Linked DNA regions of Homo sapiens. The protein of the gene in region 1 interacts with the protein of each later gene in a pairwise test. Each region holds a gene or a part of one and is shown on either strand. Other genes may lie near its edges.

Region 1 (3,500 bases):
TTATTCTTGAACTTTGATATAAACATGAAATAGGAAAATCACTGGGGGACTATAATATAAAGTACTCAAATATAAGAAAAGTAATTGCTATGAGTTCAACCCCCCACCTAAGCCAATTTTTAGTGTTACAGTCTTCTTGCCAATCTCCTAAATATTAAGATCTATACGGTCAAGCATAATTTCTCAGGATTTTCTATATAATGAAAAACTGATTTGAAAAATTAGTTTAAACCAGTTAACACTAAACTTAGTTATATAAACTAATTTAAACTAATTTTTCAAATCAGTTTTTTCAAAGATGTATGTATTTAATAATAGAAATTTGCAGGTAAACATTATTTGTAGTCAAAGTTGAGTATCATGCAAATGTTATTTTACATGAAAATAAGCATATGAACATACTTTATTTTCCTAGGCTGGATTCTGCTTTTATTTCTTTAACTTTAATAAACATGGTTTCATCATAAACAATAAGGTTAAATTTGTGCCTATCTGAATTTTCATAAAGTCTGAATTCTTAACAATTCTAATGTAGCATGTAAGAAAATGAGTTTTTACTGAATTTAAAATATCAAACAAAAAGTGACAAAACCTTTTGGAGGATGGAGTTTGTGGCCGGTTTTCTCACACCACCCAACTGGGTGGATATCCAGAGCGTCTGCATTCACCCAGAAGTCATAGCAATCAGAATACCCATCAAAGTGAAGCTTTATCCGGTATCCACAAACCTGAAACAGGTAAAATAGGTTGAATTATTTTTTTTAACTCAGAATATTCATATATATATATATATACACAAAAATAAACATGGACACCAGGCATGATATAGTCTTAATGTTAATCAAACCACCCACATTAACAGTAATAAAACAACTAAACAAATAACCAGAATCTAAAGACAAAAGCTATTAAAGTGGGAAGAGCTGAGCTGTGGCATTCTGGCAACATTCTCAGTTACATTACAACCACACGGATAGGGGGCAAAGCATAATATCCCACAATTGCAGGTCCTTTCTCCACTCCCTATGTTGTACCAAGATGTGTCCCCAGGGTAAGCTGGAAGGCACACCAGCACAGCACACTCAGCTCTAGCATGGCCCCAGAGTGGACAGTCTGCCCTGCACTGAAGGCTGCAGACCACAGCTGGTGCATATGCACAGAAGTCAAGCTTTTTTTCTCCACCAAAGCTGGGTTGGAAGAAAGAAAGAAAAGCGTCTCTCCTAGTTTATTACTTGGATGAGACAGGCTCCTAAGAATGCTAGTAAGAATGTACTCTGTATAACACATGCCATACATATGCCTACAGGGCCCCACTTAGAGACATTCTGATTTAGAAGGTCATATAGGCTTACGAGACCTGAGTTGGATCATACCCTGCCCTGGATTCTTAGAGAGAGGGTTCAGCCCCTGAGACTTCTTCCCACTAACACAAGAAGATGTGTTCAAGTAGAAACACGTATCACGCCAGACCTCTACCCGCTCCAGGAGTGTCTGTCCTGCAGAACCCTGAATGATGAACTTAGACCAGAGTGCAGAGCCAGGGCAATTAATCCTCAAATAGTGAGGTAGCTGTACAGTTACTGTCATGGAAAGTTCTCTAAAACATATAGTTAAAATTCAAGTGGTAGAACACATAACACAGAATGAGTTAAGTTTATGAGAAAATTAGACATGTGGGGGTCCACATGTATTTATGGGTATATGATTATGTATACATATGTGTATTATGTGTATATACATAAGTATATGCATTTATATACATACATTAATATACACACATATGCATACATATGTAAACACATAGTAAAAAGAAGTCCGGAGGTATATTTGCCAAAATGTTAATAATGATTTCTTCTAGGAAGTGGTAGTGAAAAGGAAGGGGCAAAATGGGAATGATGGACTTTTCATATTTTCTTTTATGTATCAGCATTTTTTCAATTAGAATGTATTGATATACCACATACATCAAATTTACAACTAAGCTGACTCCCCCCAGAGAGAACAGAGTCTCTCCATACAGCTGAGACTGGAATCCCTGGGAAATACAATCTCTCAGGTAAAGCAGGAGCTACCCCCACTCCCTACAGCCACCCCATGCAAAGAAGGCTGCTTCTCTCCTCTCTCTCACAGTCAGCTATATCTGGCCGATCCTAAGAGCTCAGCCCTATAGTAATTTACAGCCTCTAGTTCCTTGTGGGCACACCGTTCTGAGCTTCTGCTCCCTTGAGCCAAGCTCTCTCTGTTCTCCCCATAGTCTCTATCTCAGGCTCACCGGAAAGCTATGCTTTGAGAAACAATCTCCTACATCCTCACCCTCCTTGCCCACAGTCATACCTAGCTCGTCCTTCTCAAGCCTTTCCCCAAGGGTGCTCATGTTCCCAACTCTACCTCCCATAGACACAGGACGGGTTGCTGCCTCCCACCACACCATGGATCCTAGGCCAGTTCTCCCCTGCCGAGGCTCGAGCCATATGGCTGAAGCAACTCTCCTCCTCTTCTTCCCCCATGCTAACCACCCAAACACTTAGCCCTGGCTTATTCTCTTCCTTTCCATCTGAGTACTTTCGTCATCCATATGGATGACTTATCCAATACCCTGGCATTTTGACTCCCTTCCTCTCTACTTCAAGCCCTCACTCCCATGAATCTAGTCCCCAACAAGAACTGCTCTGCTTCTTAGTATTAAATTTAAAAATCCAACCCTGGGACACATACTCCTATTCCAGTCTGCAAACCCAGTTACCCCCAGATGCCTCTTCCTCAATCTCAACAGAAACTCTAGTCTCACACTGATCCTTTTACTTCCTCCCTAGCAGCTCTCCTCACCCCAAGCCTTCCTTTCCTAGCAATCATTTAAAAAACATTTTCTTGCCAACATTTTAAAATTTCTGCCCTGATATCCTTTGCAAAATATTTGCCTGGTGACATTCTATCATTTCAGGTATCCATCTTGTCTCCACCTAACCAAGTCTAGTAAATGGTGATGGGAAGGAAAAAATGACATACCGCCAGTCTTCATTATTCACATACTGTATTCCACGTTTGTGAAGTCATCTACTTGCTACAATTTATTTGTAACCCCAAAATAATACTCGCAGTGTTCGTGGACATGCACAGACTGACAACACTTTTGAGTCACTCAACATGCATGTTCCCAGCTGAAGTCAATCAAGAAGGAGCTTTACCTTCCTGTTTCAGTTCTCGTACTGGGAATAAGTGTCTTTTGTGTGGTCCATTTAGTGCCACATATTCTACATTTTTGTGCTTTTCTTGGGTGATGTTACTGTTTAAAATGGCCCCTGACATAGTGCTGAGGTGTTGTTTAGTGTCCCTAAGTGCCAAAAGGTTGTGATGTTGCCTTACAGAGAAGATACTTGTGCTAGATAAGCTTCATCAGGCAGGAGTGATAGTGCTCTTACTTGTGAGTTCAATTTTTAATGAATGAACGATATACATTAAATGAGGTGTCTTTAAACAGAAACACACATAAAACAAGGTTA
Region 2 (3,500 bases), on another chromosome or scaffold:
CCCAATAAGATCTCGGGAGCTGGGCGAGTGGGCTCAAGCATGCGCATTAAGAGGCAACATGGCGGAATTTACCTGGTGCATGACGTTCCTCTAGGAATGCTAGACTGGACAGGGAAGAACGCCTCAAGTGAGCACGCCTACAACTCCAGTAAACACCCTGCGCACGCTCCCCCACAACCCCCGTGTGCTAGCACGCCAATGCACATGCGGACAGCCCACCCCAAGGGAAGAATCAGAGAAGAAGGAACGCAAGACCCCGGAAGTATGGCAGCATATAAAACCCCAGGTCAAAAGGCCAAATCTCACACTTCATCTCTCAAGTTGCCCGCCTAACCACCTTCAAAGTGTACTTGACGTCCTTTCATTCCTGCTCTGAAGTTTTTAATAAACTTTCACTGCTGCTCTAAAACTTGCCTCAGTCTCTCCTTTTGCCTTATGTCCTAGGAGGCAAGAAGTGAGGTTGCCGCAGACCTGTCTGGATTCACCGCTGGTTAACACTGTGACCACTCTAAACATCAGAGCTCTGCTCCTGTTTATGGAGAGGTTACCCTAAATTAGCTTTAAATTCCTTCCCTAAGAAATGGAGGGTAACCTCTAAATTCCCTCCCTAGTTACCTTTGTGATTGCCTCAGACCTGCCAATACTGAAGAGGACGGCGCTCTGCTTTCTTACCAATATGATGGGGCTCCCAGGGTCCTCTGTCAGCGTGCTCTCTTTGAGGTTTCATTTCAGGTACCGGCCTTACCTTCATATCTGCTGGAAGAATCGCACGCCTTCTGCGGGGTGGCTACTCGGAGGAATATCTGCTGCCTCCAGGAATGCCTCCGGGTCTTCACAGGAGTCCCACCAGAATCACCAAGATGGTTTGCTTTGGATTCAAAGTCCCTAAAATTATAAGATGATTGATTTATGACTAGTGGGGAGGAATTCACGGGATTTTGTTAGCTTAACATTTTTTTAAACAAATCACTAAATTATCAACTATCTTTGTATAAACAAATAATCAATCACAGAAGTTATATCAAGCTCACAGTGGGTCATCATTCCTAAAGAACTGCTTTCTTACAGAATTCTTTTCATGAAAAGAGAAAGATTACATGCCCTTAAGTGATTTCGATTGTAACAGAGATTAAGAAACATGTTCCACATATCATAGTTCCAATTGGGCCTCTCTTGGTGCCACTTTGATAAAGAGAAACTGCCTAAAGGGGGAAAGGGGGTGATGCCAAGGGGCCCCATTCTGCCCTCTTCTGTGCATGGGAATATCTGCTCAGCACAGGCCCATGTCTCCAAGGATTCCCACAAAAAATGAAAAAACTTGCAATTTAATTACACAGAACCAGCAAGGCAATAACTATGCAGTCACTTGATGATGATAATTGTTTTAACGTGTGTATTTTTTAAACTACAAAATACAGTTATCAATATATAAACACAATCATAAATGTTTTCTCCTATTCACAGGACAACCTGAGAAGGCCCTTCCAATTTATACCCAAGTTATGTACCTGTAAGTAAGCAATCCCCTCAACTTACAGATTAGACGTCCTGAACAGATCAGACATCCTGATTTGAAACAGACATATGCTCACTAACCAGAAACACTGGTCTCAGAGACTTGGCAAAGACTTTTCTTAAGATAACACTTAAACTAATCCTCGTCAAAACTAGAGAACAGGTTGGTTGCACATTTTTAAAAATGGCATTCAGTAAGAAAAAAGTATAAGAAAGAAGATACAACAGATTTAGCTGAAATGATTTTTTAAATGGCAAAATAGTAATTAAAACACCCTTGTATATCTAATGATATTCAACACTTAGTAACACCCAGGCTTGATATATCTAAATTAAGCCCTACCTTTTTGTGTTCATAAAATCAGAGGTGTTATTTTCATCTACAGGAGCCAGAAATTTTAGAAAATTTGGCACAGAGGAAGAAGAATGAAGTTTTTTCCGCAGGGCATTACGGTAGGAGATGCTAAGAGTTTGGTTGAAAAAAGAGTTTAGGATAAAGAAACATAAAAACACAAAGTATAAAATATAAGCTTCAAAATAAAAGAAACATTTTTGTTCTAATGCTAAGAAAAGAAAACTAGGTAAGAAATTAAAAGTAGTTCACGAATGAGATTTAATTTTCATTTTCACCAATAAAATTTGATTTTAAATGAATGGGATCAATAATTTTTTAAAAAAGAAAATCCATCCATTTTCCAAATAACTCTTCCTTTCAAACTGGGAAAAATAATTCCCCTAAATCAATCAGGAAGTTTCTGATATGGCACAAATTGCAGTGTACATGATCAAACACAGATGTTATCCTGTGTGTGTGTGTGTGTGTGTGTGTGTGTGTGTGTGCGCGCGCGCGCGCGCGTGTGTGTGTATATACGCATGCATGTAAGTGTCCACTAGGGCAAGGAAATGTGAAAATAAGTATAAAAAAACAATTTGCAGCAGGGTGCAGTGGCTCACACCTGTAATCCCAGCACTTTGGGAGACTGAGGCAGGCGGATCACTTGAGGTTAGGAGTTCAAGAACAACCTGGTCAACATGGTGAAACCCCATCTCTACAAAAAAAAATAAAAATATTAGCCGGGCATGGTGGCGTGTGCCTGTAGTCCCAGCTACTCGGGAGGCTGAGGCAGGAGAACTGCTTGAACCCACAAGGCAGAAGCTGCAGTGAGCCGAGATCACGCCACTGCACTCCAGCCTGGGGAACAGAGTGAGACCCTGTCTCAAAAAAAAAAAAAACAAACACAAACACAAACCAATCTGCCATTAAGATCTGTTTTCATAATAATCTTAAGAAAAGTCATCAATAGTAAAATTAACTTGGTTCAAATGACAGCTGAAAATAAGACAAAATATAAACAAAGACACACACGCGCGCGCACACACACACACACACACACACACACAGTGGCTCTGCTTCCTGCATGGACATTCCCCCCATTCAGCACATCCTCATCAGTGTGAACTCCCCAGGAAAACAGACAACACCAAACTTGCCACGTGAGTGTGCTCACCTCTTTGGCACAGCATTCCCACTTTGTTCTCCACTGGAATTATGTTTTAGGTACTTAAAAAAGTTTGGCGAGGAGGCGGAGGGGTTAAGACGAGGTGGAGGAGCAGGAGCTGAAGACTGACCTGGGCGGTGCTTAGACTCACCCACAGGTGAAGGATCCACACTAAACAGCAATCAGAGAAAGCACGGGGGGGTTAGCAGGAGAGGGGGCGCCGACAGGGACACGGAGCAAACAGGTGGAAGGAGCACACCGCTTTTGTCTCGTTGTTCCAGTAACACTATCAGAGTGGAGGACTTCTTCCACTCCTTTTCCTCATCTCTGCTCGCTCTCTGGCAAAGGTAGTTTTCAGTGAAAAACAGAGTATATTGACGGCCGTTCTTGACCATTTCCCACGTGTTTATGCTCCCAACAATACTTTTTTTTTTTAATAGGTCTCACTCTATCACCCAGGCTGGAGTGCGGTAGCACGATCACAGC
Region 3 (2,255 bases), on another chromosome or scaffold:
TATAGGTATAAATTAAGATGTCATTTCCCTAGAGAGGCTAAGAAATAAATACATTCAACAAATATTTGATGAATTAAAGGAATGAGATGAAGATATCTGGAGAAAACGACTCATTCGATCCACCATTCATTCTGCACACATTGTGTCAGGCAAGATGCTCAGTATCAGACACAGAATATAGGAAAGTACAAGTAACCAGCTGGGTGTGGTCACTCATGCCTATAATCCCAGCACTTTGGAAGGCCAAGGCTGGGGAGGACTGCTTGAGGCCAGGAGTTTGAGACCAGTCTGGACAACACAGCAAGACCCTCATTCTCTACAAAAAATATTTTTAAAAAAGTTTTTAAAAGAAAGTACAAGAAGGTACACATACCCTTTCACAAGTCACAGTGATATCTTACTAAAATGCCTGGAGCCACAAGAAGCCTGTTTTCCCTTCAAATGAAAAGTAGGTTAAAACTGGATTCACCAAATCTCACAGAAGAAAAAAGTACACACACTGAACTTTTTTAGTTTTTTATTTTGATTCCTATGGCTGGACAAGGTATCTACATTCTAGAACATCTTCTTAATCCCTAAACAAGTGGAAATCTACTACTTATATATAAAAAGACAAGTAGAAAAGGTCATGATTGTCTAACAGGGAACATGAATCCCCAAATAAATTATCTTACAAAAATATCATACTTGCTTTTCTACTTTTTTACTATACTGGTAAAAATGAAATGAAAAAAATAATTCACATTAAAATAAAATCTGTAGGGTGGCATAGAAGACAATTATTTTTACATATTAAAGTCCTTCAAATAAATATTTTACACACAAATTTAAGTAAGTTTTTAAAAAAAATAAGTATTTACGCTATATTTTTTTGCTCTGCTAAAAAGAGACCACTTATTAAACTGACATTAAACTGGACTGCAGCTCATTCTCTGCAAAGAGTAAAATGCATGTCACAGGCAGATTGGATACACACGTGCATATTACATACATATGAAATGGCTAACACTGCTGTGCATACTACTGCCATAACTAGTTTTACCCTGTAAAAATACTGTAGCCTATACTGTATCAAATTGCAATGAAAGAACAAAAGGTACTACTTGCCTATTTTAGACACTTGGTCAAGCATTTAAAAAAATACAAAAATTGGTCCACTGCAGTGGCTCACACCTGTAATCCTAGCACTTTGGAAGGCTGAGGTGGGTGGAACACCTGAGGTCAGGAGTTCAAGACCAGCCTGGCCAACATGGTGAAACCCTGTCTCTACTAAAAATACAAAAATTAGCCAGGTGTGGTGGCCGACGCCTGTAATCCCAGCTACTCAGGAGCCTGAGGCAGGAGGATCGCTTGAACGTGGGAGGCAGAGGTTGCAGTGAACTGAGATCACACCACTGCACTCCAGCCTGAGTGACAAGAGTGAGACTCCGTCTCAACAAAAAAAGAAAAAGTTATAATGTTTTGGGGACTTAAAGATTACTGAAGAGGGGATAAAAGTCAACACTGCTTACAAATACCTGAACATGGAGAGCACAGTCAACACATTCATGTGGACAGCACATGAACGGATGTATTAATACATTACACAGCTTCTTCTATCTGACCTATTCCTCTTGTTCTAAAGAGTTACATGGACTTGGATCCTTTAAGATGATTTTAAAAATAATATTACATTAAGTTTTCCTGGTCTAATAACCAACTTTGAGAAGTACAGTGGAAGGGTATAGAACTTCCTATATCTTCTATACTTTTAATGCCAATTTGATTTTTATTGTGATGTGATATTTAACAGTATGCTAAAAATAAAATTGACTGAATTGTATGATTTTGTCCACAACATTGAAGTCTCTTTTTGCTAAAATATTACAAAATGAATCCAGTAAACACTTTCCAATGGCCTAAGTTAGAGATGAATTCAACTTTTTTTTTAAAGCAATTACAACTACGCTGGGCTGAGGACAGCTACGTTAGACCCTGAAAACCAAAGCCAAGCACCCAAACATCTAAAACACTAACACTTTCCATCCAGGATAGAAAAATGAGCATCCAAAGTAAAGAGAACCACAAGACTGATCAAGTAACCAGTCAAAAACCACTTCTCTATTATTTGAACTTATAGTTACTCGAAGCTTGAAGTGTCCACCTTCATTATTACTGGTGGTTCCTAGAGTCACGGCTTCAATGTCAAACGTGACAGTGGACCCAGAAGTAACTGCGGGTAACTGATTTGTCATTTCTTTTCCATTGACAAAAAC
Region 4 (3,500 bases), on another chromosome or scaffold:
GAAAGGAGGCACATACGCTTTGCAGCATCCCTTACAGGAAGGCTAGAGTTCATTCACGTAGACATCTCTCTTCCCCACTAGACTGGAGTCCCATGACAGCAAGGATCCTGTGCGAATCAACTCCACACAGCTGCAGCTACACAGGGGTTTGGCACATGCAGGGTGGCCAAGGAGCCTGTGGTGCACTCTCCCTCCATCTCCCAGCCATGTGGCCTTTGCCAGCTCTCCCCCTCTCCTGAGGGGCACAAATGAAAGTGACTTTGTGGTGTTCTAAGGGGAAATGCTCCATGGCTCTCAACAAGGGTGAGATAATACTCTTAGCTTTATTTCTGATACTGCTCTTTGACATCTGTTGGCTATTTTTCAAACTTCAGCACACCACATCAGTATCTTCAAGGGAAACACTCATGGTGACGTAACAAACCCCTTCCTTCACTGTTGCATCTTCACCAATGGCTCAGAGCCTAGGTAATGTTTTTCTCAATGCATTATCCAGCTTCAACACTGCTATGGGACTTTGGGCAAATCATCTAAGCTCTGTTATGTCTCGGTTTTCTCATCTCTAAAGTGAAGATAACAGAACTTTATACTTCATAGGGTTGAGTGTTTAGCCCACCAAGTGATCAATAAAGGTTGGCTGTCTTTAGGTTAATGTCCCATAATTATCCCAATTTTGGTAAGGAAGAATTCTCCTAAGAAATCTTTTCAAAGGCATATTTAAGATGTAATAAATCATGTTACTGACTTGCAAACATATTTATCCTTTCAAAGAAGGCTTCCCTTAGTCAGTTCCAGTTTTAATGTGACATTTTTTTTTCATAAAGACCAAAGATGAAATTCTTTGGGATTCACAGCATAAAAATGGTAAAGGGATAATCCCTTTGTATTGTGTATAATACCAAATGCTATACATTCAAATGTAAAATTCTAAGTTCCTGACATACTAATCCATGAATCTTAATTGTTACAATTAATACACATAGCATAAGACACTTTCTAAAACTTTCATGGTCTCATGCTCTTTAAAAGGTTTAAATGAAAGAGTGCCGCAGACATGCAGGCTACTCCATCTTCTGGACCCTTGCTTTTCCCTCATTATACATTCAAGTATTTAAGAAGATGCAGATGGAATCTCTTTCTTACCTCTCCATCAGCCACGGCAGAATAATTCACTTGGGCAACGGTGACCGTGGTTGGCAATTCTGAAGCATCAGCCAATGTGGCTACTGTTGCCCCCGTACCAACCTAAAGAAAAATATGGAAAGTGGTTAAGTGTCAGTGGATGGATCCTTCCACCTCTTTACTCAGAAGCTGAGACTCATTTAATCCCAAATTCAGCACAGATAACAAAGAATATGCCTTATGATGTGAAATCTAAAATCATAGCTCACTAAAATCATAGTTCAGAGACTATCACGAGTTTCAGAATTTTACTTCAACCAAATAAGTCCATATGAGAAAAGCTATCACATCGCCACATCCATGCCCAGTGTTGGTCAACCAACTTTCTATTCTCACCTCAATCTGAACTTTAGAGGTTCCCAATCAACAAATTGTGTTTTACCTCAGAAGAGGTCATTCAGAAGGAATATTCCCTGATCACTGAGAGTGAAACTGTAAAACAGAAGTCATTTTAAGGCCAGACATGGTGGCCCACATCTGTAATCCCAGCATTTTAGGAGGCCGAGGCAGGAGGATCACTTGAGCTCAGGAGTTTGAGACCAGCCTGGGCAACATAGCAAGACCTCATCTCTACTTAAAAAAAAAAAAAAAATTCAGCCAGGCCTGGTGGCATACACCTGTAGTCCCAGCTACTCGGGAGGCTGAGGAGGGAGAATCACTTGAGCCCGGGAGGTTGAGGCTGCAGTGAGCTGTGATGACAGAGAGAGATCTTGTCTCAAAAAAAAAAAGAGCCCTTTAAAAGTGCTTTGTTTTGGAAATGTCCAGGAAGCTACTCATAGCTCTGTATTTAGCAAATGCAAAGAATTTAAACTATTCTTCAGAAATCAATTTCAGGTAGGAAGATCTTGGGGAGCTATATAAAGTTCATACAAGAGTTCGCACAAAGGAAACTTTCCCTAGTCTGAGGTGAGGTGCCCACTGATCCATCTCAGAAGCCACAGTCTGGTAGCCCTCAGGTTTACTCACCTGGATAAGTGAGACAGTGCCATCAGGGTTACTAAAAGTCTGGACTACAGTCTGTGATGGTACAAGATGAGCTATACTATGTGTGGCTGTGGCCTGTGTTTGCGTTTGCTGATCTTCAAAGGCATACAAAAGGTCTTCCCGCCCATGCTGTTTATAACAGTTTTTAACTATGGTCCGTAGTGCCTGGGTCCATGAAACCTGTCACCAAATGACCGGAAAAGCACATTAAGCCACAAAGAACTTTGGTTATTTAGTCCCAATATGCAATAAGCAGCTACTTCTTTATCAAATCAAACCAAACCAAACCTCTTATTAGACTCTCCTAGGATTACCTCCCACAGACTGGTTCTGGTAGAAAGAAGCTGTGTACGAAGTATCAAAGAGGGCTTCTCATTGGTTTCTTCTTGATCAAAGTCTAGTTTACACCCTATTCCAACCTGAGGCCAAACTCTTAAACTTCTTGCAAAGAAAGATTATTCTGATCAAGAATGGCATATTAAGATTCTCAGTAAACTTCCAAGCTAAATGAAAAATAAATACGTGGCCAGGCATGGTGGCTCACGCCTGTAATCCCAGCACTTTGGGAGGCTGAGGAGGGCGGATGGCCTGAGGTCGGGAGTTCGAGACCAGCCTGACCAGCATGGAGAAACCCCATCTCTACTGAAAATACAAAATTAGCTGGGCATGGTGGTGCATGCCTGTAATCCCAACTACTCGGGAGGCTGAGACAGAAGAATTGCTTGAACCCGGGAGGCAGAGGTTGCGGCGAGCCGAGGTCACGTCATTGCACTCCAGCCTGGGCAACAAGAGTGAGACTCTGTCTCAAAAAAAAAAAAAAAAAAGAAAGAAAAGAAAGAAAAAGAAAAATAAATACGCAAAAAAAGTAAGGAATGGTAGGTAGTTTAGTCTTTCTTGTAAAAGTTTTGTTATTAGCAGACTCAGCTGGCAGACTTCATATCCCTCTAATTCCATATTTACATTTTCAACAATGATTTTTAGTAACCAGAAATAAAAGCATTTCTAAGTGTTCAAAGTGATTAATACTTTTACTTCAAGTTTCTTTGACTTTCCCAAGCACTTCATAAAATTAAAACTGCTCCAAAAGGCAACCCCGAAGACACATTTTAAATTCATCAACTCAACCCAGTCTTCTCTTTATAGTATAGTGATGGAGCGACAAATGGAAAAGGCTATAAATCAAAGAATATCAGTCTTTGGAGGGACAGGCTTAACTATTACACAAAGACTTTCTAGCACAAGATGTAGAAATGACAAAAATTGAGGTGGTTAATTTAGGATGGAAAAGCAACCAGGCAACTCAGTCAGAGGAACTCTCACCCTCTGCTTTTGCT

What was found. The genes of interacting proteins can lie anywhere in the genome.
Region 2: the proteins of L3MBTL3 (region 1) and TBC1D1 interact in binary tests that used the Homo sapiens proteins (3 or more experiments, as listed by UniProt).
Region 3: the proteins of L3MBTL3 (region 1) and CRLF3 interact in binary tests that used the Homo sapiens proteins (3 or more experiments, as listed by UniProt).
Region 4: the proteins of L3MBTL3 (region 1) and NRF1 interact in binary tests that used the Homo sapiens proteins (3 or more experiments, as listed by UniProt).

Annotation. Positions count from the first base shown.
Region 1 is NC_000006.12:130,063,581-130,067,080, reverse strand, and holds part of L3MBTL3 (lethal(3)malignant brain tumor-like protein 3), read right to left. Parts: intron 729-3,500; coding exon 593-728; intron 1-592. UniProt on the Homo sapiens protein: Is a negative regulator of Notch target genes expression, required for RBPJ-mediated transcriptional repression. It recruits KDM1A to Notch-responsive elements and promotes KDM1A-mediated H3K4me demethylation.
Region 2 is NC_000004.12:38,051,584-38,055,083, reverse strand, and holds part of TBC1D1 (TBC1 domain family member 1), read right to left. Parts: intron 3,186-3,500; coding exon 3,024-3,185; intron 1,979-3,023; coding exon 1,859-1,978; intron 886-1,858; coding exon 746-885; intron 410-745; exon of another isoform or gene 334-409; coding exon of another isoform or gene 95-333; intron 1-94. Other genes in the region: uncharacterized protein LOC124900692, read left to right, coding at 95-333. UniProt on the Homo sapiens protein: May act as a GTPase-activating protein for Rab family protein(s). May play a role in the cell cycle and differentiation of various tissues.
Region 3 is NC_000017.11:30,782,184-30,784,438, forward strand, and holds the end of CRLF3 (cytokine receptor-like factor 3), read right to left. Parts: coding exon 2,004-2,255; 3' UTR 501-2,003; downstream 1-500. UniProt on the Homo sapiens protein: May play a role in the negative regulation of cell cycle progression.
Region 4 is NC_000007.14:129,709,220-129,712,719, reverse strand, and holds part of NRF1 (nuclear respiratory factor 1), read right to left. Parts: coding exon 3,487-3,500; intron 2,347-3,486; coding exon 2,149-2,346; intron 1,246-2,148; coding exon 1,144-1,245; intron 1-1,143. UniProt on the Homo sapiens protein: Transcription factor that activates the expression of the EIF2S1 (EIF2-alpha) gene. Links the transcriptional modulation of key metabolic genes to cellular growth and development.